Regions from separate parts of the Homo sapiens genome. Here all the other regions are linked to region 1. The links come from fine-mapping of genetic effects on gene expression. A gene starts in region 1. Each other region holds a variant in brackets. All regions are shown on one strand. Distances are between the middles of the regions.

The links.
Region 2: its variant is fine-mapped to the expression of ARF4 in whole blood (INTERVAL, PIP 0.97).
Region 3: its variant is fine-mapped to the expression of ARF4 in whole blood (Lepik 2017, PIP 0.95).
Region 4: its variant is fine-mapped to the expression of ARF4 in whole blood (INTERVAL, PIP 0.91).

Annotation. Positions count from the first base shown.
Region 1 is chr3:57,594,389-57,600,180 of GRCh38, reverse strand. It overlaps ARF4 (ARF GTPase 4), which reads left to right and starts at 2,837. Exons shown (of 6, transcript NM_001660.4): 1 at 2,837-3,107. The coding sequence starts at 3,041. It overlaps ARF4-AS1 (ARF4 antisense RNA 1), which reads right to left and starts at 2,392. Exons shown (of 2, transcript NR_132370.1): 1 at 2,130-2,392. It also overlaps a transcript of PDE12 not described here. RefSeq lists enhancers at 1,814-2,519, 2,034-2,593, 2,614-2,863, 2,874-2,943, 3,134-3,183 and 4 more.
Region 2 is chr3:57,558,937-57,564,728 of GRCh38, reverse strand. It overlaps PDE12 (phosphodiesterase 12), which reads right to left. Exons shown (of 3, transcript NM_177966.7): 2 at 5,341-5,419; 3 at 1-5,167. The coding sequence ends at 4,725. Among named protein-coding and RNA genes, the nearest start is that of PDE12, 5.6 kb to the right of the region's middle. The variant G/A (reference allele first, on the strand shown) is at 2,320.
Region 3 is chr3:57,569,365-57,575,156 of GRCh38, reverse strand. It overlaps ARF4 (ARF GTPase 4), which reads left to right. Exons shown (of 6, transcript NM_001660.4): 6 at 2,859-3,794. The coding sequence ends at 2,945. It also overlaps a transcript of PDE12 not described here. Among named protein-coding and RNA genes, the nearest start is that of PDE12, 16 kb to the right of the region's middle. The variant A/G (reference allele first, on the strand shown) is at 3,440.
Region 4 is chr3:57,479,564-57,484,563 of GRCh38, reverse strand. It overlaps DNAH12 (dynein axonemal heavy chain 12), which reads left to right. Exons shown (of 74, transcript NM_001366028.2): 13 at 1,053-1,188. Among named protein-coding and RNA genes, the nearest start is that of DNAH12, 62 kb to the left of the region's middle. The variant G/T (reference allele first, on the strand shown) is at 1,893.

The DNA.
Region 1 (5,792 bases):
TGGTGGTGTACCTGTAGTCCCAGCTACTTTGGGGGCTGAGGTGGGAGGATCACTTGATCCCAGGAGGTTGAGTAAGCCGAGATGATGCCACTGTACTTCAGCTTGGGTGACAAAGTGAGACCCTGTCTCAAATAAATAAATAAATAAATGTAAGAAGGTAGTATAGTGTAGTGGTTAAGAGTGTTAATGGCTGGGTGCACTGGCTCACACCTGTAATCCCAACACTTTGGAGGCTGAGGTGGAAGGATTGCTTGGGCCCAGGAGTTCCAGACAGGCCTGGGCAACATAGCCAGAATCCACTTATTTATTAAAAAAAAAAAAAAAAAAAGAGTGTAAATACCAGTTAATACCAGAAGAAATGGGTTCTTATAGCTGTTCCACTGCTTTTAGCTGTGTGACCTTGGGCAGAATATTTAATCTCTCTGACCCTGATTATTTTTATCTGTACAATAGAGATATTACAGTCTGCCATTAACATCCTGTTTTGTAATTTACATTAGCCACTTGATGTGTAGTGTATTCTTACTGAAAAATCTGTTTTGACAACTTTTGTTTTGGTTCAGGTTTTGGAGGCTAGAGATGGAGAACAGAATTCTTTCGATTTATTTTGCATAACTAAACAGAAAACATGGATTAAGATTTGGAATAAGTTACAGGGAGGAGGGCTCATACGGTTTGTCTTTTGAATTTAAGAAGACCCTAAGAATTAGTTGAAGATTGTTTTAAGGAATTCTACTATATAAAACTAAAAACAGACATAAGGCCTAAAGTGTGAAAGGAAAATAAATCTTGGGGCCTCCACCTCACTAAGCTAAAGAGAAAAGTCAAGCTGGGAACTGCTTAGGGCCAACCTGCCTCCCATTCTTTAAAAAGTCACCCCTCTGCTCACTGAGATAAACGCATATCTGACTGCCTCCTTTGGAGAGGCTAATCAGAAACTCAAAGGAATGCAACCATTTGTCTCTTATCTATCTATGCCCTGGAAGCTCCCTCCCCACTCAGAGTCTTCCTGCCTTTGCTTTGAGTTGTCCAGTCTTTCCAGAATGAACCAATGTTCATCTTACATATATTGATTGATGTCTCATTTCTCCCTAGAATGTATAAAACCAAACCGTGCTCTGATCACCTTGGGCACATGTCTACAAGACCTCCTGAGGCTATGTCATGGACGCGTGTCCTCAACTTTGGCAAAATTAACTTTCTAAATTAACTGAGGCCTGTCTCATATTTTGGGGGTTCACAAAAGGATACAAGAAGGTCTTGTCACTTAGCAAGCTTCCAAAATGCAATTTTGAGTTATTCAACTGCTAAGCAACTCTTTACATGTATCTCCAATGCAAAGGAGGGTACTTCTGAGTAAAGAAGTTTTTGGGGTTTTTTTGTTGTTGTTGTTTGTTTTTTTAAGACAGTCTCGCTCTGTCGCCCAGGCTGGAGTGCAGGGGCGCGATCTCCGCTCACTGCAACCTCCGCCTCCCGGGTTCACGCCATTCTTCTGCCTCAGCCTCCGGAGTAGCTGGGAGTATAGGCACCCGCCACCACGCCCGGTTAATTTATTCTATTTTTAGTAGAGACTGGGTTTCACCGTGTTAGCCAGGATGGTCTCGATCTCCTGACCTCGTAATCTGCCCGCCTCGGCCTCCCAAAGTGCTGGGATTACAGGCATGAGCCACTATGCCCGGCCAGAAGTTTTTGCTTTTAATTGCCCAGGGCCACTCCTAAGAAATAACAGTCTCTGAAGGGTAGATAAGGTAGTGCTACCAAGAGAAGCGTTACTCAGCAAGCCTTCAAAAATATAAAAATAACTTACTGTTTCTGAAAGTTTGCAAGTTTTTCTTATTCAACCCCATCCTATGGAAATATACCAGTTGGAATAAGCAACTACAGAACCACATAGGACGGCACTACTAGAAAAATAGATTAAATCTTTATCCTGGCAATGAGTCTAATACATTTATCATTGCTGTGAATTTTAAAAGGTGTAGCAGGCCGGGCGCGGTGAGTCACCGCGCCAGGCCCGATCATAAACACTTTTAAAGTGAAGAGGCTTTCCGCTTCCTCAACATAAGGAGTAAATCTTTAATGCTGCTTCTAGGAAAAAAAGTACAAGAAAAGCAAGACTTCCTCCTTGCCTTCTCTTTAAAAAGCAACAGCCGATGAACACGTGTTGGAGCGCTCTCGCCTTGACAGAATTAGAGATCTTCAGAATCACTTGGCGTGGTGGTCGAAGCGTCTAGCCCTAGCTCATTAGGGTGCCACAGTTTCTCGGCCCACAAGTCAGCTTTTAACCACTTTTCTCCGCAAAAGACCGGACCGGTCTTCATGCGTCAACTAAAGCAAGCGTCTGGTCCCGTGTGTGAAACGTGTAAGTTCATGGCATCAGGGAATACCCATCGCGCGTACCGTAATAGAAGAGGGCGAGGTTCCTCACCTAACCCATAATGCTCAGCTCGCCTTTCCGGAAGCAAGGACTATCACCCCGACAATACCTTCATCCGGGCGGAAGCGTCTCACCCTGAGTCTGATTTGGCAGTGACGAAGCGAGGTATTGTGGGACTTTGTCCGTCTCCCAGTACGCATGTGCCTCAGCCGGCCTCTCCCGGCTCCTGGGGCCACGTCCGGGCGGTGGCGCCGTCGAGAGATGCTCGTCAGCGAAACTGGCCAATCCCCTGCAGGCGCAAGCGCAGTGGCTCGGGCGCACCGGAAGCGCAGGGGGATGGGGCGGCGGTGACGCGATTCTGTCCGCGTTGGAGGGGCCGGGCCGCTGCTGGAGTCGCCGCGGCCGCCGCGTGACGTGGCACAGCCAGAGCCTAAAGGCTAGAGCCGGAGCTGCCGCGCCAGTCGCCTAGCAGGTCCTCTACCGGCTTATTCCTGTGCCGGATCTTCATCGGCACAGGGGCCACTGAGACGTTTCTGCCTCCCTCTTTCTTCCTCCGCTCTTTCTCTTCCCTCTCGTTTAGTTTGCCTGGGAGCTTGAAAGGAGAAAGCACGGGGTCGCCCCAAACCCCTTCTGCTTCTGCCCATCACAAGTGCCACTACCGCCATGGGCCTCACTATCTCCTCCCTCTTCTCCCGACTATTTGGCAAGAAGCAGATGCGCATTTTGATGGGTGAGTGAGGGGCTGCGAGTCAGGCGGGACCTGGGAAAGGCAGGGTCTCCACAATTGGGGTGGCCTCTGGGCCTGTTTTTTTCCTCCGCCCGCTGTGGTGGGGGAGGGGCGCCGGGTCGGGGGTCGGAAGGAATTCTTAAGGGGGAACAATGGAGCGGAGGGTGAGCGATCCCCCCCGCCCCCGATCTGTCGCCAGACGAGACAGGGACAGGGCTTCGGGCAAGATTTCTTTCTGGACTCGGCTTTTTCTCCTTGATCTTATTGAAAGCTGGACAACATTGGGCAGAGATGTGGGGAAAGCCAACTCTGGGAAGCAAACACTTGGCGAGGCCCTTTCTGGGGGTGCGATCTGCATACCTTCTTGCCCGGGTGTGGACAGCGGTCAGGAGGGAGGCAGAGCAACTCCAGCCTTTTCCCTCCCCTTCTGCGTTTCGTGTACAGTCCCTGCATACTCCATTGGTATGTAAGCCAGCGGCCACCCGGAGCCTGGAGCCGCCCGGGGCAGGAAGTTGCGGTGGCCAGGGAGCACCCAAGGTTTCCGAAGAGTCTGGAGTCCTTCAGCGCTCACTTTGCTAAACTTGGCCTTGCGCTGGATTCCGTTTCAAGTTTTTCGCTCCTTGTTAATCTCATTCTCCGAAAACTGAGCTTATCTTCTATTTCTTTGACTATTTTCAAAAACTTTAAATGTGTTTGGTTTATTCTCCTAGGTTTTTAAGCTTATTTTTAGGCGGTCTAAGGTCTAATGCAAAAAAATTTTAGAAACGAATTTTTAAAAAATACCTGATAAATTTTCAAGTAACTGAACATCATGACGCTGAATTTTATGGTAGTCTTGTTAAATAGTAACTACAATTTTTTTAAAATTTCTTTTTAGAAAGTTGACTTTTTAAAAACTACTTTTTAGGGGGCGTGTTTTTGCTCAGCTGAGGGAGAAGGGCTGTCAGTTGGCTGAAGTAAGCAACCGCTCCCGGTTACTGTAAGCAGTCTACATCACAGCTGAGCTCCATGGACTAGAATAACGCTGAAAGAAGCCCCTCTAACTTTGAACGTTGAAACTTGTTGGTTCATTAGCTTGTTTTCTACCGGAGGAGGTTTTATTTTTCTCTTCCTTTTTTTTTTTTGCAGACGGAGTTTTGCTCTTGTCACCCAGGCTGGAGTGCAGTGGCGCAATCTCGGCTCACTGCAACCTCCACCTCCCGGGTTCAAGAGATTCTCCTGCCTCAGCCTCCCGAGTAGCTGGGATTACAGGCATGCAACACCACGCCTGGCTAATTTTTTGTATTATTAGTAGAGACGGGGGTTTCACCACGTTGGCCAGTCTGGTCTCGAACTCCTCACCTCAGGTGATCCACCCACCCAGGCTTCCCAGAGTGCTGGGATTACAGGCGTGAGCCACCGCGCCCGGCCGGAGGTTTTATTTTAGAGCTGTACTACCATCAAAACTTGCAAACACAAGCTTCTGTAATATTTCAAGGTATATAAAGAGTAACAGTATATACATTGGCTCATGTTTATTTTCCTCTTAGCGTACTTACACTTTGTGAATCAATTGTTTATGAGTCATTCATAAAGTATTTTTTCTTTCAAAGTTTCTTAGATTTCCTTTGTCAAGAGGACAGAATTATTTTAGGAGGGCAAGCATATTTAAGTTTTCAGTGGCTGAAAGTTGGCAGTCTGAAAAAGGATCGGAAGTTAATGGGAGGACTTCGGACTGTGATAAATGAATTTCCAGTCTGTTCGTTAAAGAGATTTAACAATATATGGTTATGTTCCAGAACACATAGTATATTGGTCTTTTTACTTAAGATTTATTGTAAATGAATTGCTATTTTTCAATTCCTTAGTCTTTTGTGATTGATGAAAGTATCAGAGGGGCAAGGAATATAGAAGTATGCTACCAGCATTTTCATATATTTACTATATTGGGAGGCATTTCCCTCCACCCCAAAAAATGATTCGAAGAAAATGGGAGAGAAAAAATATTTAAGTTTCTGCATTTGTGTGGAGGATTTAGGAGTTACTTGTTTTTAATGTTTTATTACTCAGGCATGCTATCGTTTTGCACTTTAATTTTGGGATAATCAGTTTTCCTTGACTAAAAAACACTTCAGTCACAAGATCGACATTTATGGTAACTCATCAAAGGAAGTATCAACGTACGAGGGAGATATGTGCATGAACAGGGAAAAAGGTGGTTTGGAAGTTTGATAATTCTTACATTTTTCTGTCTGGCTTTATGAGTGACTGACAGCAAAAATAATAGATCACTTTTAAAGTGTCTGCCCCATTCAACTGTTGGAATTATTAATGTTTTACATTAGTGTGCTTCGTTTTTCTTTATAAAGCTTAGATAAGATTCATGCCCTCCTGAGTCAGTGTTTTATTCAGACTTTACCATTTTAAAGTATAAAGGAGATAGCAGTTAGCTGATGTGTCAGGTTTGCCAAACTACTATGGAGAAGTTTTAAATTTAATTCGTACACCTGCTGTTCTTCAAAAGTTCAAGTAACTTTAAAAGATATTGGAAGTTAGCTTGTAGTTAACTGTAATTAAAAAACCAACACAGTGTATCAAATTTAACATCATCTGAACTATTGATTGACAGAAATTATGTACTAGTTATAAGGGTAAGTTATGCAAGTGATGATATTGCCCATACTGCTCGAGTTAGGAAGCAATAGCTTC
Region 2 (5,792 bases), 35 kb after region 1:
GCACCAGTGCCCTCCAAGCCTGGGTGACAAAGCCAGACCCTGTCTCAAAAAAGAAAAAAAAAGTGTTTATATTATCCAGTATAAGAAAGCCAACTAAATAAAGCCTATCCATTTCCCCTACTGAACCATCTTCAATATATAAGGAACACAAATGGTATGAAACTAGCACAAATGCAACCTAGGAATACTTCAATACACTAAAAAAAAAGTACATCAATACTTCATGATAACATCATTAAAGTGAATTACTGGGCAAAATGGACTGTGTTATATAAATGCTTTGACATACATTCATTACATAAATTGGACAGAAGATAGAGATGAATAATTCAGTTTTCTGTGAAATTTTGCGGGGAAATTTTAAATTATGAGTAAAAATCTAACACTGACAGTATGAACATGGATTTTTGACAACCCAGAATTTGCTAGCATAGCAGATAGGTGAACAGATTTACTATATTTAAGATTATTTTGCCATTTATATATAAAATTAAAATTTAGGCCGGGTACCGTGGCTCATGCCTGTAATCCCAGCACTTTCAGAGGCTGAGGCAGGCAGATCACTTGAGTTCAGGAGTTCAAGACCAGCCTGGCCAATATGGTGAAACCCTGTCTCTACTAAAAATACAAAAATTACAAGCAGTACTGTATGGTTATTTTGAAGTTAGTGCTAAGAAGAAAAATAAAATCACGAAGTTAATACAGCTCTAGTATTTTTAACATTTAAAAAAGTACTTTCATATAAAGTGAGAACACAGAACTTATATATTACCCATGTCAGTTAAAGCTGTTAAAAATTGTCCTCCCTACCCCCTACAACATGAAATCTAGAGTGGTTTTTTGAAGACAGGGTCTTGCTCTATTACCCAGGCTGGAGTGCAGCGCACCTTGATCACAACTCACTGCAGGCTTGACCTCATGGGCTCAAGTGATCCTCTGGCCTCAGCCTCCTGAGCAGCTGGGACTACAGGCATGCACCACCATGCCTGGTTAATTTTATTTTTTGCAGAGATAGGGTCTCACAATGTTGCCAAGGCTGGTCTTGAACTCCTCAGCTCAAGTGATCCTCCTGCCTCAGCCTCCCAAAATGTTGTGATTACAGTCAAGAGCCACTATGCCTGGCCCTCTAGATAGTGTTGCCTTCCTGTACTATATTAAGCAAATTATTAAAATTCTCAAAACACTGAAATATTTTTTATTTGTGTTTAAAAAATTCATTTTCAGGGCTGGGGGAGGGATAGCATTAGGAGAAATACCTAATGTAAATGACGAGTTAACGGGTGCAGCAAACCAACATGGCACATGTATACCTATGTAACAAATCTGCACGTTGGGCACATGTACACTAGAACTTAAAGTATAATAATAAAAAAAGAAAAAAAGAAAGTTAGTTTTCAGTTATGGAAGGTTGGGCTTGTAATCTCAACTACTTGGGACGCTGAGGCAGGAGGATCATTTGAGCCCCGCAGTTTGAGGCTGTAGTAAGTTATGACTGCACCACTGCACTCCAGCCTGGGTAACAGTGAGACTCTATCTCTTAAAAAAATTATGCTGAGAATATTTTCTGAGTTGTCACATGGGTCTTGTGATAAACTAATAATGCAAACTTTTATTTTTCATTATATATAAATATTGGATTTATCCCAACCAAACTAGTTTGCAGGGAACCTCTGCCTTTATTTCACGGCTGGAGAATGAGATACAAAAGATGTCAATTTCCATCGTAAGAACTTTCCACAGTAGTGTTCTTTGGACATTCTCTCCCTTGTATTAGGCTCCTCAGAAATCTATCTCCAGACTGAAACCAGCACATTCTGATGAGATCATAGCTTAGTACTCAGAAAAATCACTACTCAGTGGAATTCTTGAAATTTTGAAACAACTGATTTTAGCATACAGAATTTCAAAAAGAACATACATTACAGCCAGAAACGATTGTTTGCTCATGAATTTTGATTATTGGCAGACACATTTGCTGTAGCGGCAACTGTGCAAGAGTTCATTTTAACAGAATAATATGTTCTGAAATACTCTTTTATAATCAATATAAAATTCTAGAATGTTAATTCCTATAGCAAGAACTTGTGACATTATAAAATGTGGTTTACCATAGAAAGTCGCTAGATTTCCCATGTTTTCTTAAAATTAAATGTACTAAAAAATCCAAATGTAATAGAAAAATGCAATCACATAGGTGCTTTAAACAGACATTTCTGAATAACACTGCATTCTAACTCATGAGTACAAAGAAATGTGTATGCTATTTATACATTTTCTTAGTGTTCCCTACCTTTGGACTCCAATCATTTTAACGTATCC[G/A]TATACTGGAGATTTGATCACAGTATATGGCACTTCACAATAACATTCCATGTCCTAATAATGTGAAATGCCTGTATACAATCTGAGTATATTGTTTAGTCAGAAAACATCAAAATTAAGGATATAGGACATGGAATGTCTGTTAAGTGCTGAGTTTTTCTGACTAGAGTTTAATCTAGCCAGTGTTAATGTGGAAGCTGTATGCTTTTTTCATGGGCATGTTCGAATTTTTTCTTTCAAAATGTTTCTCAACTTTTTGATGTGACACTTTGTTTTCTCCCAAGTCACTCTAAGGGTTCTATCAACATCTTTCTTTGAAAACAGCCCAAAAACATATTTTTAAAATGAAAAAAAAATTCACAAGAGAATCAAGATTTGGTTTTAATCTATTATTTACATATTTGTAAACTGCTGTTAAAATGCTCTCAAAAATGTTATTTAGGAAGGCACAATTTGGTAGCATCAATTTTTTATTTATAGTTTTTTCTAAACAAGATCCGAAGAAACTTCCACTTTAATTTTCCCCTTGGAGTACTTAAAGTACTTCAAGGTTCAATGTCAAATGCAGATAAAACCCCTTCATTTTCAAACTTACTAAGTGTTAACAATACATTTGATAGTGAGCAGAATATGAAAGTACAGATGTTATCAAAAGAGGAAATTCTTATGATACTAGGTTCAGAGATTAAAGAATTTGAAACAAGGGCTTTCATGACTGGGGAAAATCAAAGCTTTTCTTGAAGGGAGTGGGCTTTTAATACTCGAGCTATTAATTAAATGCAGAAATGAGATAACATAGTTATCCTGAACATCAAAAAAGCAACAGCTAATACAGCTAATGCATTATAAATAATGTATTTCATAACTGAATTAGTAAAGCATGGTTACCACTCTAGGCTAGACACTAATCAGTATAACCATTTGTAGTTTCTAATTTTAAAAAGTTTGGCTTCATATTTAAATTTCATTTTACTATATATATATTACATATATACACACTGTTGTCTGTAACTCAAACTATAATGCTTGTCTGTAAAAAGAAGTTTTTTATTTCAGAGATGCTTAAAAGTCCCACTACTCAACCTTTTTCCTGTTTATAAAAACCAACAATTTTGAAATTACTTCTAGTGTAGAAATGCTCAATGATTCATCCAAAATTTCAAGCCCATATCAGTAGGTAGTTTCTCATAAAGTAATGTGCTGTATTTTCTAATATCATATGGTCAAATACCCTGTTCATTTATGAACATTTTTCATGGGCAAGAGTAACTGAAGACAATGGGATCAAGTTGAATATGTTGCTACTCACTTTGAATACTAAATTGTGCTTGCATCCTAAAAATTAAAATGAGCTGCAGTAAGAATTAGAATATAAACTGTGTTCATTTGTACCATACACTAAAAACTAAAATCCTAAAAATAAGAATGAAAATACCTTACTTGTTCATTGAAAAATGAAAGATGAGAAGCAATAACAATTGGTGACGATTTATTTTTATCTTTTGTTAAAGCTCTGAAATTGTAGTAAATCGCTAACTAAATTGAGGTAGAGGTAGACCCTAATGTTACTCCTTCCATGTGTCAAGTCTCTCACCTTAGGTCTCTAAGGTCACCTATAACTTAAGTCTCTCACCCTTAACTTAAATACATTTTCCCTCTTAGTACATAAGCATGATTCATTTTGGAATGTGTTGTCATGAAAGAAAAATTAAGATCATTCAAATGGTACTTTAAAAATTCTGAACTCCTAGCTAAAAAAATTCTCTTATAAAAATGTACACAAGGGCCGGGTGCGGTGGCTCACGCCTGTAATCCCAACACTTTGGGAGGCCGAGGTGGGTGGATCACCTGAGGTCAGGAGTTCAAGACCAGCCTGGCCAACGTGGCGAAACCCCATTTCTACTAAAAATACAAAAATTAGCCAGACATGTTGGCGCACGCCTGTAATCCCAGCTACTCGGGAAGCTGAGGCAGGAGAATCGCTTAAACCCAGGGGGCGGAGGTTGCAGTGAGCCGAGATTGTGCCATTGCACTCCAGCCTGGGCAACAAGAGTGAAACTCCATCTCAAAAAAACAAAAACAAAAACAAAAACAAACAAACAAAAAACACGCTAATTCAATCTTCCTTTTCTGAGAGTCTCAATTTGGAGAAAAATAATTCAATTTTCTATTTTGCTAGTAAGAAATATATTTGTTTCTCCTCCAATTGTAGAGGAAAACAAGGAAAGAGAAGATGTATGATGCAAACATCAACAGTTTCATAACGAAGACATCAGGAACATAACTAGGAGGGCTGAACATTTTACCATTCCTCCTTGAAGTTTACATATAAGCTTTGATTCATATTAAATTTTCTGCTAAAATAACTACTTCCTTTTCAGACTTCAATTCCATTAAACACACATCTATTTCCATTTTAAATCACATACAAGTGCTATGTGATCAGAGGGATGGGAAACACTAGGTAAGGCCTGGTGGGTGGTAACTTCTTCATGACTAGGTAATGGAATCACCTGTTCAACCTCTAAAGCATTTAAGTCAATGAAAATGTAATCTAGACATCCATGAAAGCCACCAACATAATTTGTGTAAGCAGGTTCACCACAAGCACTTTTCAGCTTGAAGAAATGTGTAAGAGACATATTGCATCTTTCCTCCTCCCCATTGGAAGCCCAGTCTTCATGATCCTCTGGAATGCTGCCATTGATGACAAAATGATACATTCCTGTTGATGGTGTACTATTAAAGTCCCCACAAAATATAACTGGTATGCCAGGATACAGATCACATGAAACATGTCTTATGTGAGCCAAGGCTACTGCCATTTGAATGAGGCGAATATACCCACCTATGAATATAAAAAACATTAATGTAAGTATTTTTTAAAGTTGTCTTTAAGTTAAAAAAGAAAAACTACACAAATTACAGTCTCTGGGTGACGTTCAAGATATGCATTTGTGTAAAACACTTTAAACAACTTTAAGCGTGTTTAAGTCACTTGTGATACCAAATAAAACCTACCTTTAGGATGCCAGTAAAGATGGGTATTAGCAACACATATCCTTTTAGAAGAGTCCTTTGTAGACTGAAGAACTGAAACCTAAAATAAACGGAAAGTGCCAAGAGTTCAGTTGGCATTTGCAAATCTCCTGAATGTTTTTGTTTGTTTGTTTGTTTTTTTGAGTTTTTTCGAGACAGTCTCACTCTGTCAACCAGGCTGGAGTGCAGTAGCGCGATCTCGGCTCACTGCAAGCTCCGCCTCCCGGGTTCAAGCGATTCCCCTGCCTCTGCCTCCGGAGTAGCTGGGACTACAGGCGCGTGCCACCACGCCCGGCTAATTTTTTTGTATTTGTAGTAGAGACGGGGTTTCATCGTGTTAGCCAGGATGGTCTCGATTTCCTGACTTGTGATCCACCCGCCTCGGCCTCCCAAAGTGCTGGGATTACAGGCATAAGCCACCAGGCCCGGCCTGT
Region 3 (5,792 bases), 25 kb after region 1:
GATGGGGGGCTGGGTGCGGTGGCTCATGCCTGTAATCCCAACACTTTGGGAGGCCTAGGTGAGCAGATCATCTGAGGTCGGGAGTTTGAGACCAGCCGGACCAACCAGGGAGAAACCCTGTCTCTACTAAAAATACAAAATTAGCCAGGTGTGGTTGCGCATGCCTGTAATCCCAGCTACTCAGGAAGGCTGAGGCAGGAGAATCACTTGAACCCAGGAGGTGGAGGTTGCGGTGAGTCGCGATCGCGCCACTGCACTCCAGCCTGGGCAACAAGAGCGAAACTCGGTCTCAAAAAAAAAGTGGAGATGGGGGGTCTCGCTTTGTTGCTAGGCTGGTCTTGAACTCCTGGACTCAAGCAATCCTCTCACTATCTCAGCCTACCAAAGCGCTGGGATTCCAGCCATGGTGCCCAGCCTTGTTTGCTTGTTAACATAACAGTTTATGGAGGAGACCAGGTACCACGGCTCACACCCGTAATCCCAATACTTTGGGAACCCAAGGCAGGAGGATTGCTTGAGGCCAGGAGTTCCAAACCAGCCCGGGCAACAAAGTGAAACCCTATCTCTACAAAAATAAAAATTAGCTGGGTGTGGTGGCATGTGCCTTTAGTCCCAGCTACTTGGGAGGCTGAGGTGGGAGGACTGTTTGAACCCAGAAGTTGGAGGCTGCAGAGAGCTGTGATTGTGCCCATTGCACCCCAGCCTGGGTGACAGAGCAAGACTGTTTCTTTAAAAAAAAAAAAAAAAATTTGTACTTCTCTAAAATTGCTTATCATTGATCAGTGATTCAGTGATGGAGATAAATTATCAGAAACTTAGTGTCATAGGCTTTTTACAGTAGTTTTGCATTAACCTGTAAATAAGGGAAATACTGTGGCTGTGGTAAAAAATGAAACAAACAACAAAGAACCTATTGCAGGCCGGGTGCAGTGGCTCACGCCTGTAATCCCAGCACTTTAGGAGGCTGAGGTGGGTGGATCATGAGGTCAGGAATTCAAGACCAACATGGCCAAGATGATGAAACCCCATCTCTACTAAAAACTACAAAAAAATTAGGTGCAGTGGCAGGCATCTGCAAGCCCAGCTACTCTGGAGGCTGAGGCAGGAGAATCACTTGAACCCAGGCAGCAGAGGTTGCAGTGAGCCGAGATCACGCCACTGCACTCCAGCCTGGGTGACAGAGCGAGACTCCGTCTCAAAACAAACAAACAAACAAAAAAAAACAACCTATTGCCTGTTTGAGATATCTCAGGCTGATTTGAAGAACATAAACTGGGCCGGGTGTGGTGGCTCACACCTGTAATCCCAGCACTTTGGGAGGCGAAGGTGGGCGGATCACTTGAGACCAGGAGTTCGAGACCAGCCTGGGCAACATGGTAAAACTCTGTCTCTACTAAAATTACAAAAATTAGCTGGTCGTGGTGGTGCATGTGTGTAACCCCAGCTACTTGGGAGGCTGAAGGCACGAGAATCTCTTGAGCCTGTGAGGCGGAGGTTGTAGTGAGCCGAGATCACGCCACTGCACTCCAGTCTGGGCAAGAGTGAGTACTCTGCCTCAAAACAATCAGTCGATCAATCAATAAATAAGCAAGCAACACTAACTGTAAATGATACAAGTTTTCCATGCTGTGAAGGTATGAATTTGAGCCTTTCCCCAGCCTCCTAGGTTACTGAGATTTGGTATTCAAATAATTGGCAACATGGTATACCTGCAGTGGCCTTGCAACATTAAACTGGTCAAAAAAATTAATAAAAGTAAACTATGCCTTAAATGTAAATTGTTTTCTAGGTTTTTTTTGATACTTTCACACAGTTACTAGAGATAAGATTCGTTGCCATTTAAAAGCAAGAACGTTTTGGAATGCATGAGACTAAAGATGGTGAAATTGTCTGAAAAGCTTGCCCTTAAAATATCAACAAACCCTACTCTTTCTTTCTTTCTTTTTTTTTTTTTTGAGATGGAGTCTTGCTCTGTCACCCAGGCTGGAGTGCTGTGGCACGATCTCGGCTCACTGCAAGCTCTGCCTTCTGGGTTCATGCCATTCTCCTGCCTCAGCCTCCTGAGTAGCTGGGACTACAGGCGCCCACCACCACGCCCGGCTAATTTTTTGTATTTTTAGTAGAGACAGGGTTTCACTGCGTTAGCCAGGAAGGTCTCGATCTCCTGACCTCATGATCCATCCGCCTCAGCCTCCCAAAGTGCTGGGATTACAGGTGTGAGCCACCACGCCCGGCCTAACAAACCCTACTCTTTCAAAAATTTGCCTCTTCTACTTTGAGTTTAGTTTTATGGGAAACGAGAGTTATAAAAACCAGATGGGTAGTTTATTAGTTACTAATTTCCCCATGATTTCTTTTTTCAGATTAAGTGGTAGAAAGTTTACTAAAAGGGAACCAAAAACCAGCACTGAAAAGAAAGCTGAATGAGGGGGGAAAATCTTGTCTAAATATAATGAATAGGTAGAAGTAGCTTGATTGATTGAGACGGAGTCTCACTCTGTCGCCCAGGCTGGAGTGCAGTGGCACAGCCTCGGCTCACTGCAACCTCCAGAATAGGTAGAAGTGGCTTTATTTTTAAAAAATAATTTAATCTAAAAAAGTAGAGACAAAGTCTCACCATGTTACCCAGGCTGGTCTCGAACTACTAAGCTCAAGTGATCCTCCCATCTCCGCCTCCCAAAGTGCTGGGATTTATAGGTGTGAGCCACCACGCCCAGCCAGAAGTAGCTTTAAATATGGGAGAGTTTTGTGAGATGCAAGAGGTGTGAAAAGACTCTTAAGTTTGATTAAGAAAGTTTAAACACTGGTGTTATATATTAACTTTGTTAATCAAGTATTTTCTTGTCTTCTCTTTACAGTGGTATGTTCAAGCCACTTGTGCAACACAAGGAACTGGTCTGTATGAAGGACTTGACTGGCTGTCAAATGAGCTTTCAAAACGTTAAATGAAATTGGATATCTAACCAAGGACATGTTTGATAAAATTGGTCTAGGCTTGTTACAACAAAATTAGTTTGTATCTTGGTTATTAAACAGTATCTGGGACTGGTTTGGGCAGAATATTAAACTTATTTTGTTGCCAATTATTGTTTACCGAGTATAATGTTGCTATTTAGCAATGTGCTTGGTTTTAAAGAAATTCTCCTTGGGAAAAAAGTATCCTCTTTTAATTTTACTTCCCATAAGCGTAAATGCCTGGACATAGCTCTTGTGCAACCTTTAAATAAATTGTTTTGAGTGTTTTTTGAGCCCCAGACAAATAATGTTTTAAAGTTATCCCCTTGCTACTTTACTGATACCTTTATCATTCCTGAGACAGTTTGCTAATTTAAAAATGTAGCATTCCATTTGTATTTATTTCTCTCCCTTGCCAAAAAGATTTTCTAATACTGCTTGTACCAGCCAGAGAAAGATCCAAAACACTACTCAGCTCTCTTGC[A/G]CTGAGGAAATTTTTCCCCCTACATTGACTCCTGGCCTACATCAGCCAAACTTAACCTTGGTGGGGTTTGGATTTGATAGCCAATTAGTTCTGTGCTGGTTGCAAAGAATTGATATTTAGATGGTTTTTAATACTCAGCAGATTGTCTTCCTTTATATTGTGTCTTTTTTATGTTGCATGTTGCTTTTGTTATCAGCCTGATTTTTTGCTCAGTATATGATAGTTCTGCTGATGTTTTGTTTATTGGGCAGACATATCTTCATTAAGAGTTTTTGGAAAACTCATCAAATTCGATGAATACATTTTCTTCATAACCCATTTGGAATTATTCCTAATAAAATGATAAAATACGTAATTGTGTGTGTTCTTTTTGAGTTTTGAAGGTATTTGAAATGTATTTTCTTATGTAGCCAACTTTGCTTGCATATTTTATGTACTGTGAACAGTAACACAGATCCCACTGGTAGGTTACTAATTGTATAAAGTGGAGATCTAGATTGTTTTCATGTGTATAACAGCATGGGGAACACTATTAAAAACATAGTTTTCTAAAGTCAGATCAAGGGTAAAAGGAGGGCCTGGCATGGTGGCTCACGCCTGTAATCCTAGCACTTTAGGAGGTTGAGGCAGGAGGGTCACTTGAGAATAGGAGTTTGAGATCAGCTTTGGCAATGTAGTAAGACCCTGTTTCCCCTGTCTCTACTTAAAAAACTAAAAACAAAACAACAACAACAAAAAAATCAGGTGGGGGGTGGGGAGGGGCGGCATGTGGAGTGGGGTAGGGAGAGTAAAAGGCTGTAATAAAATGAACTGCCCAAAAAGCATGTATGTATGTGTTTTTTAGTTAAGGTTAATTAAACAAAAAAATTCAGGTGCTACTTGTATGGCCAATATAGAGACTTAGTGATGCTACTTTCCTACAAAAAAGTTTCACAACCACTTTTCTTTTTAACAGGGCAAATTTTAGAACTTTAACAGAAAGCTGCATATAATTCATACAAAGGTATACCTCATAAACTACATCTATTAAGTTTTAAGGGCTCAACTTGATAACTGAGTAACTTAGTTTCTGTCTATATTCTCATGTTGCATTCTTAATGGCTTGTAAAGATTCAGCTAAATTTATGGATTGAAAATTCCAAAATCAAATGCATACTTTTAAAAAAATGTATATTTTTGAATTGTCAAATAAATAACAATGGCCAGGCGTGGTGGCTCACACCTGTAATCCTAGCACTTTGGGAGGCCAAGGTGGGCAGATTGCCTGAGCTCAGGAGTTCAAGACCAGCCGCAACATGGTGAAACCCCATCTCTACTAAAAATACAAAAAAAAAAAAAAAAGGGTCTGGTGTGCTGGTGCATGCTGTGGTCCCAGCTACTTGAGAGGCTGAGGCAAGAGACTCGCTTGAACCTGGGAGGCAGAGGTTGCAGTGAGCCAACATAGCGCCACTGCACACGGTCTGCAAGACTCTGTCTCCAAAAAAAAAAAAAAAAAAAACACTGGATTAACCAAAAGGAAATTAGAATTGGTTGATGATTAGGTAGGGCAAAGTGTATGTTTAGTTTGTGTTACTTGTTAGAAATGCAATTTCCCTAGCCAACTGGATGAATTCTCCTTTCTTCCTTCCAAAGAAGACAGGTGTCATTTCCTATAGGATAAAACTGAACTATAGTATAATTGTTGTGTGTGTAGTCTTATGGGGCATCAACTAGGAAATATAAAACATCAGTGAATAAGTTCAGCGTTAGGGCTAGGTATTTAACCTAGTTATGCAAAGGTGTTTACATGGACTGTAAAGGGACTAGAGAATCTATGTAATCTTACTCGTGATGTAAAGCAGCTCTTAGTACCATTGGAAATTACCTTTTTTTTTTTTTTTTTTTTTTTGAGATGGTTTTACTCTGTCACCCAGGCTGGAGTCCAGTGGCAGGATCTTGGCTCACCGAAACCTTTACTTCCTGGGCTCAAGTGATCCTCCCATCTCAGCCCCACAAGTAGCTGGTACTACAGGCATGAGCCACCATGCCCAGGTAATTTTTATAGTTTTTAAAGAAAGTATTAGGCTGGGTGGGGTGGCTCACATCTGTAATCCTGGCACTTTGGGAGGCCGAGGCAGGTGGATCACCTGAGGTTGGGAGTTCAAGACCAGACTGACTAACAAACATGGAGAAACCCCATCTCTACTAAAAATACAAAACTAGCCATGCATGGTGGTGCATGCCTGTAATCCCAGCTACTCGAGAGGCTGAAGTGGGAGAATTGCTTGAACCTGGGAGGTGGAGGTTGTGGTGAGCCAAGACCGCACCATTGCACTCCAGCCTGGGCAATGAGTGAAACTCCGTCTCAAAATAA
Region 4 (5,000 bases), 120 kb after region 1:
GGATTTAAGTCTTTGATCCGTCTTGAGGAGATTTTTGTATAAGGTGAGAGATGGAGATCCTGTGGCTGTTCAGGTTTCCCAGCACTATTTATTGAATAGGGTGTCCTTTCCCCAATTTATGTTTTTGTATGCTTTATCAAAGATTAGTTTGGCCCAGATATTTTAAAGCACAGGAAAAAATTCCATGAAATGTAACTTTAGTTGAATAATGCTGTAGGATATCTAGGTTCATATCCTACATGGGATATTCTAAGAGAACTGTTAATTAAAGAAACTATGTATAAGAGTTTGAGGGTTTGATCTGTTTACTTGCTGTACTGTCATGTTTCACAAGAGGCACTAATAATAATAAAACTAATAATTATACTAATGATTATAGTTATCAGTAAATAGAGTGTACTATGTGCTAGACCCTTTGCATTCATTGTTGTATTACAACAATCCAGAAAGATGAGTGTTACCTGGGTATTTAAGAGAGTTGAAGAGGTCGCTAAAATTTTTTTCTAATATGCCATAATTTTGCATGTAAATATTACCTTAATTTTGTAGGTTTTGTTGATGTATAGTATATACTGAATTATAGCAGATAAGCTTTTTTTTTTTTTTTTTTTTTGAGACAGGGTCTCACTCTGTCACCCAGACTGGAGTGCAACGGTGCAATCATGGCCCACTGTAGCTCAACCTCCCAAGCTCAAGTGATCCTCCTGCCTCAGCTTCCCAAGTAGCTGGGACTACAGGCATGTGCCACCATGCCCAGCTAATTTTTGTATTTTTTTTTTTTGTAGAGACAGGGTTTCACCACTTTGCACAGGCTGGTTTTGAACTCCTGAGCTCAAGTGATCTGCCTGCCTTGGCCTTTCAAAGTGCTATGATTACAGGTGTGAGCCACTGTGCCTGGCCAAGCTTAAATATTTTTAAGATACCTTAGTGAATCAAGCAATTTTTTTAGGATATCATAGTTCTTATTTTATAGTAATCGTCATAACACACATTTATTGAATATGATATAACATTAATTGCCATAAGTCTATTAAAGCAGAGTATTATGTCAGTATTTGCAGTGAATTTGAAGCAATTAAAGAACATGCATTAAAAGTCCCTGAAACAACAGAAGAGATGATGGATCTGATATCTTATGTAGAAAAAGCCCGGACTGTAGGAATCGAAGAGTTGATTTTAAGGATCCAGGTAAGGAATTTTAATTTGCATATTTTGGTTTGTTTTCATTGTGAAATATTATTTTCATGGTGAAGATGTATAAAATATATAGTTACACAAATAGCTGTAAATTGAGCGGTTATATTGCCACCACCTAGGCCAAGAAATAGGATATTGTCAGCACCCCAGGACTCTGCATATAACTTTCTGATCGCCATGCCTCTCCTTCTCCCCTGTCCTCTTCTAGAGGTTTCCAGTTGATTTTTACAGTAATTTTAGCTTGGAATTTCTTTTTTTTTTTTTTTTCAATGTTGCACAGCTTTGTTTTTTTATTATTATACTTTAAGTTTTAGGGTACATGTGCACAACGTGCAAGTTAGTTACATATGTATACATGTGTCATGTTGGTGTGCTGCACCCATTAACTCGTCATTTAACATAGGTATATCTCCTAATGCTATCCCTCCCCCCTCCCCCCACCCCACAACAGTCCCCGGTGTGTGATGTTCCCCTTCCTGTGTCCATGTGTTCTCATTGTTCAATTCCCACCTATGAGTGAGAACATGCGGTGTTTAGTTTTTTGTCCTTGCAATAGTTTGCTGAGAATGATGGTTTCCAGCTGCATCCATGTCCCTACAAAGGACATTAACTCATCCTTTTTTATGGCTGCATAGTATTCCATGGTGTATATGTGCCACATTTTCTTAATCCAGTCTATCATTGTTGGACATTTG[G/T]GTTGGTTCCAAGTCTTTGCTGTTGTGAATAGTGCTGCAATAAACATACGTGTGCATGTGTCTTTATAGCAACATGATTTATAATCCTTTGGGTATATACCCAGTAATGGGATGGCTGGGTCAAATGGTATTTCTAGTTCTAGATCCCTGAGGAATCGCCACACTGAATTCCACAATGGTTGAACTAGTTTACAGTCCCACCAACAGTGTAAAAGTGCTCCTATTTCTCCACATCCTCTCCAGCACCTGTTGTTTCCTGACTTTTTAATGATCGCCATTCTAACTGGTGTGAGATGGTATCTCATTGTGGTTTTGATTTGCATTTCTTTGATGGCCAGTGATGATGAGCATTTTTTCATGTGTCTTTTGGCTGCAAAAATGTCTTCTTTTGAGAAGTGTCTGTTCATGTCCTTTGCCCACTTTTTGATGGGGTTGTTTGTTTTTTTCTTGTAAATTTGTTTGAGTTCATTGTAGATTCTGGATATTAGCCCTTTGTCAGATGGGTAGATTGCAAAAATTTTCTGCCATTCTGTAGGTTGCCTGTTCACTCTGATGGTAGTTTCTTTTGCTGTGCAGAAGCTCTTTAGTTTAATTAGATCCCATTTGTCAATTTTGGCTTTTGTTGCCATTGCTTTTGGTGTTTTAGGCTTGAAGTCCTTGCCCATGCCTATGTCCTGAATGGTATTGCCTAGGTTTTCTTCTAGGGTTTTTATGGTTTTAGGTCTAACATTTAAGTCTTTAATCCATCTTGAATTAGTTTTTGTATGAGGTGTAAGGAAGGGATCCAGTTTCAGCTTGCTACATATGGCTAGCCAGTTTTCCCAGCACCATTTATTAAATAGGGAATCCTTTCCCCATTGCTTGTTTTTCTCAGGTTTGTCAAAGATCAGATGGTTGTAGATATGCGGCATTATTTCTGAGGCCTCTGTTCTGTTCCATTGGTCTATATCTCTGTTTTGGTACCAGTACCATGCTGTTTTGGTTACTGTAGCCTTGTAGTACAGTTTGAAGTCAGGTAGCGTGATGCCTCCAGCTTTGTTCTTTTGGCTTAGAATTGACTTGGCAATGCAGGCTCTTTTTTGGTTCCATATGAACTTCAAAGTAGTTTTTTCCAATTCTGTGAAGAAAGTCATTGGTAGCTTGATGGGGATGGCATTGAATCTATAAATTACCTTGGGCAGTATGGCCATTTTCACGATATTGATTCTTCCTACCCATGAGCATGGAATGTTCTTCCATTTGTTTGTATCCTCTTTTATTTTGTTGAGCAGTGGTTTGTAGTTCTCCTTGAAGAGGTCCTTCATGTCCCTTGTAAGTTGGATTCCTAGGTGTTTTATTCTCTTTGAAGCAATTGTGAATGGGAGTTCACTCGTGATTTGGCTCTCTGTTTGTCTGTTATTGGTGTATAAGAATGCTTGTGATTTTTGCACATTGATTTTGTATTCTGAGACTTTGCTGAAGTTACCTATCAGCTTAAGGAGATTTTGGGCTGAGACAATGGGGTTTTCTAGATATACAATCATGTCATCTGCAAACAGGGACAATTTGACTTCCTCTTTTCCTAACTGAATACCCTTTATTTCCTTCTCCTGCCTGATTGCCCTGGCCAGAACTTCTAACACTTTGTTGAATAGGAGTGGTGAAAGAGGGCATCCCTGTCTTGTGCCAGTTTTCAAAGGGAATGCTTCCAGTTTTTGCCCATTCAGTATGATATTGGCTGTGGGTTTGTCATAGATAGCTCTTATTATTTTGAGATACGTCCCATCAATACCTAATTTATTGAGAGTTTTTAGCATGAAGCACTGTTGAATTTTGTCAAAGGCCTTTTCCGCATCTATTGAGATAATCATATGGTTTTTGTCTTTGGTTCTGTTTATATGCTGGATGACATTTATTGATTTGCGTATGTTGAACCAGCCTTGCATCCTAGGGATGAAACCCACTTGATCATGGTGGATAAGCTTTTTGATGTGCTGCTGGATTCAGTTTGCCAGTATTTTAGTGAGGATTTTTGCATCGACGTTCATCAGGGATATTGGTCTAAAATTCTTCTTTTGTTGTGTCTCTTCCCGGCTTTGGTATCAGGATGATGCTGGCCTCATAAAATGAGTTAGGGAGGATTCCCTCTTTTTCTATTGATTGGAATAGTTTCAGAAGGAATGGTACCAGCTCCTCCTTGTACCTCTGGTAGAATTCGGCTGTGAATCCATCTGGTCCTGGACTTTTTTTGGTTGGTAAGCTATTAATTATTGCCTCAATTTCAGAGCCTGTTATTGGTCTATTCAGAGATTCAACTTCTTCCTGGTTTGGTCTTGGGAGGGTGTATGTGTCGAGGAATTTATCCATTTCTTCTAGATTTTCTAGTTTATTTGCGTAGAGGTGTTTATAGTATTCTCTGATGGTAGTCTGTATTTCTGTGGGATCGGTGGTGACATCCCCTTTATCATTTTTTATTGCATCTATTTGATTCTTCTCTCTTTTCTTCTTTATTAGTCTTGCTAGCGGTCTATCAATTTTGTTGATCTTTTCAAAAAACCAGCTCCTGGATTCATTGATTTTTTGAAGGGTTTTTTATGTCTCTATTTCCTTCAGTTCTGCTCTGATCTTAGTTGTTTCTTGCCTTCTGCTAGCTTTTGAATGTGTTTGCTCTTGCTTCTCTAGTTCTTTTAATTGTGATGTTAGGGTGTCAATTTTGGACCTTTCCTGCTTTCTCTTGTGGGCATTTAGTGCTATAAATTTCCCTCTACACACTGCTTTGACTGTATCCCAGAGATTCTGGTATGTTGTGTCTTTGTTCTCGTTGGTTTCAAAGAACATCTTTATTTCTGCCTTCATTTCGTTATGTACCAGTAGTCATGCAGGAGCAGGTTTTTCAGTTTCCATGTAGTTGAGTGGTTTTGAGTGAGTTTCTTAATCCTGAGTTCTAGTTTGATTGCACTGTGGTCTGAGAGATAGTTTGTTATAATTTCTGTTCTTTTACATTTGCTGAGGAGTGCTTTACTTCCAACCGTGTGGTCAATTTTGGAATAAGTGCTGTGTGGTGCTGAGAAGAATGTATATTCTGTTGATTTGGGGTGGAGAGTTCTGTAGATGCCTATTAGGTCCGCT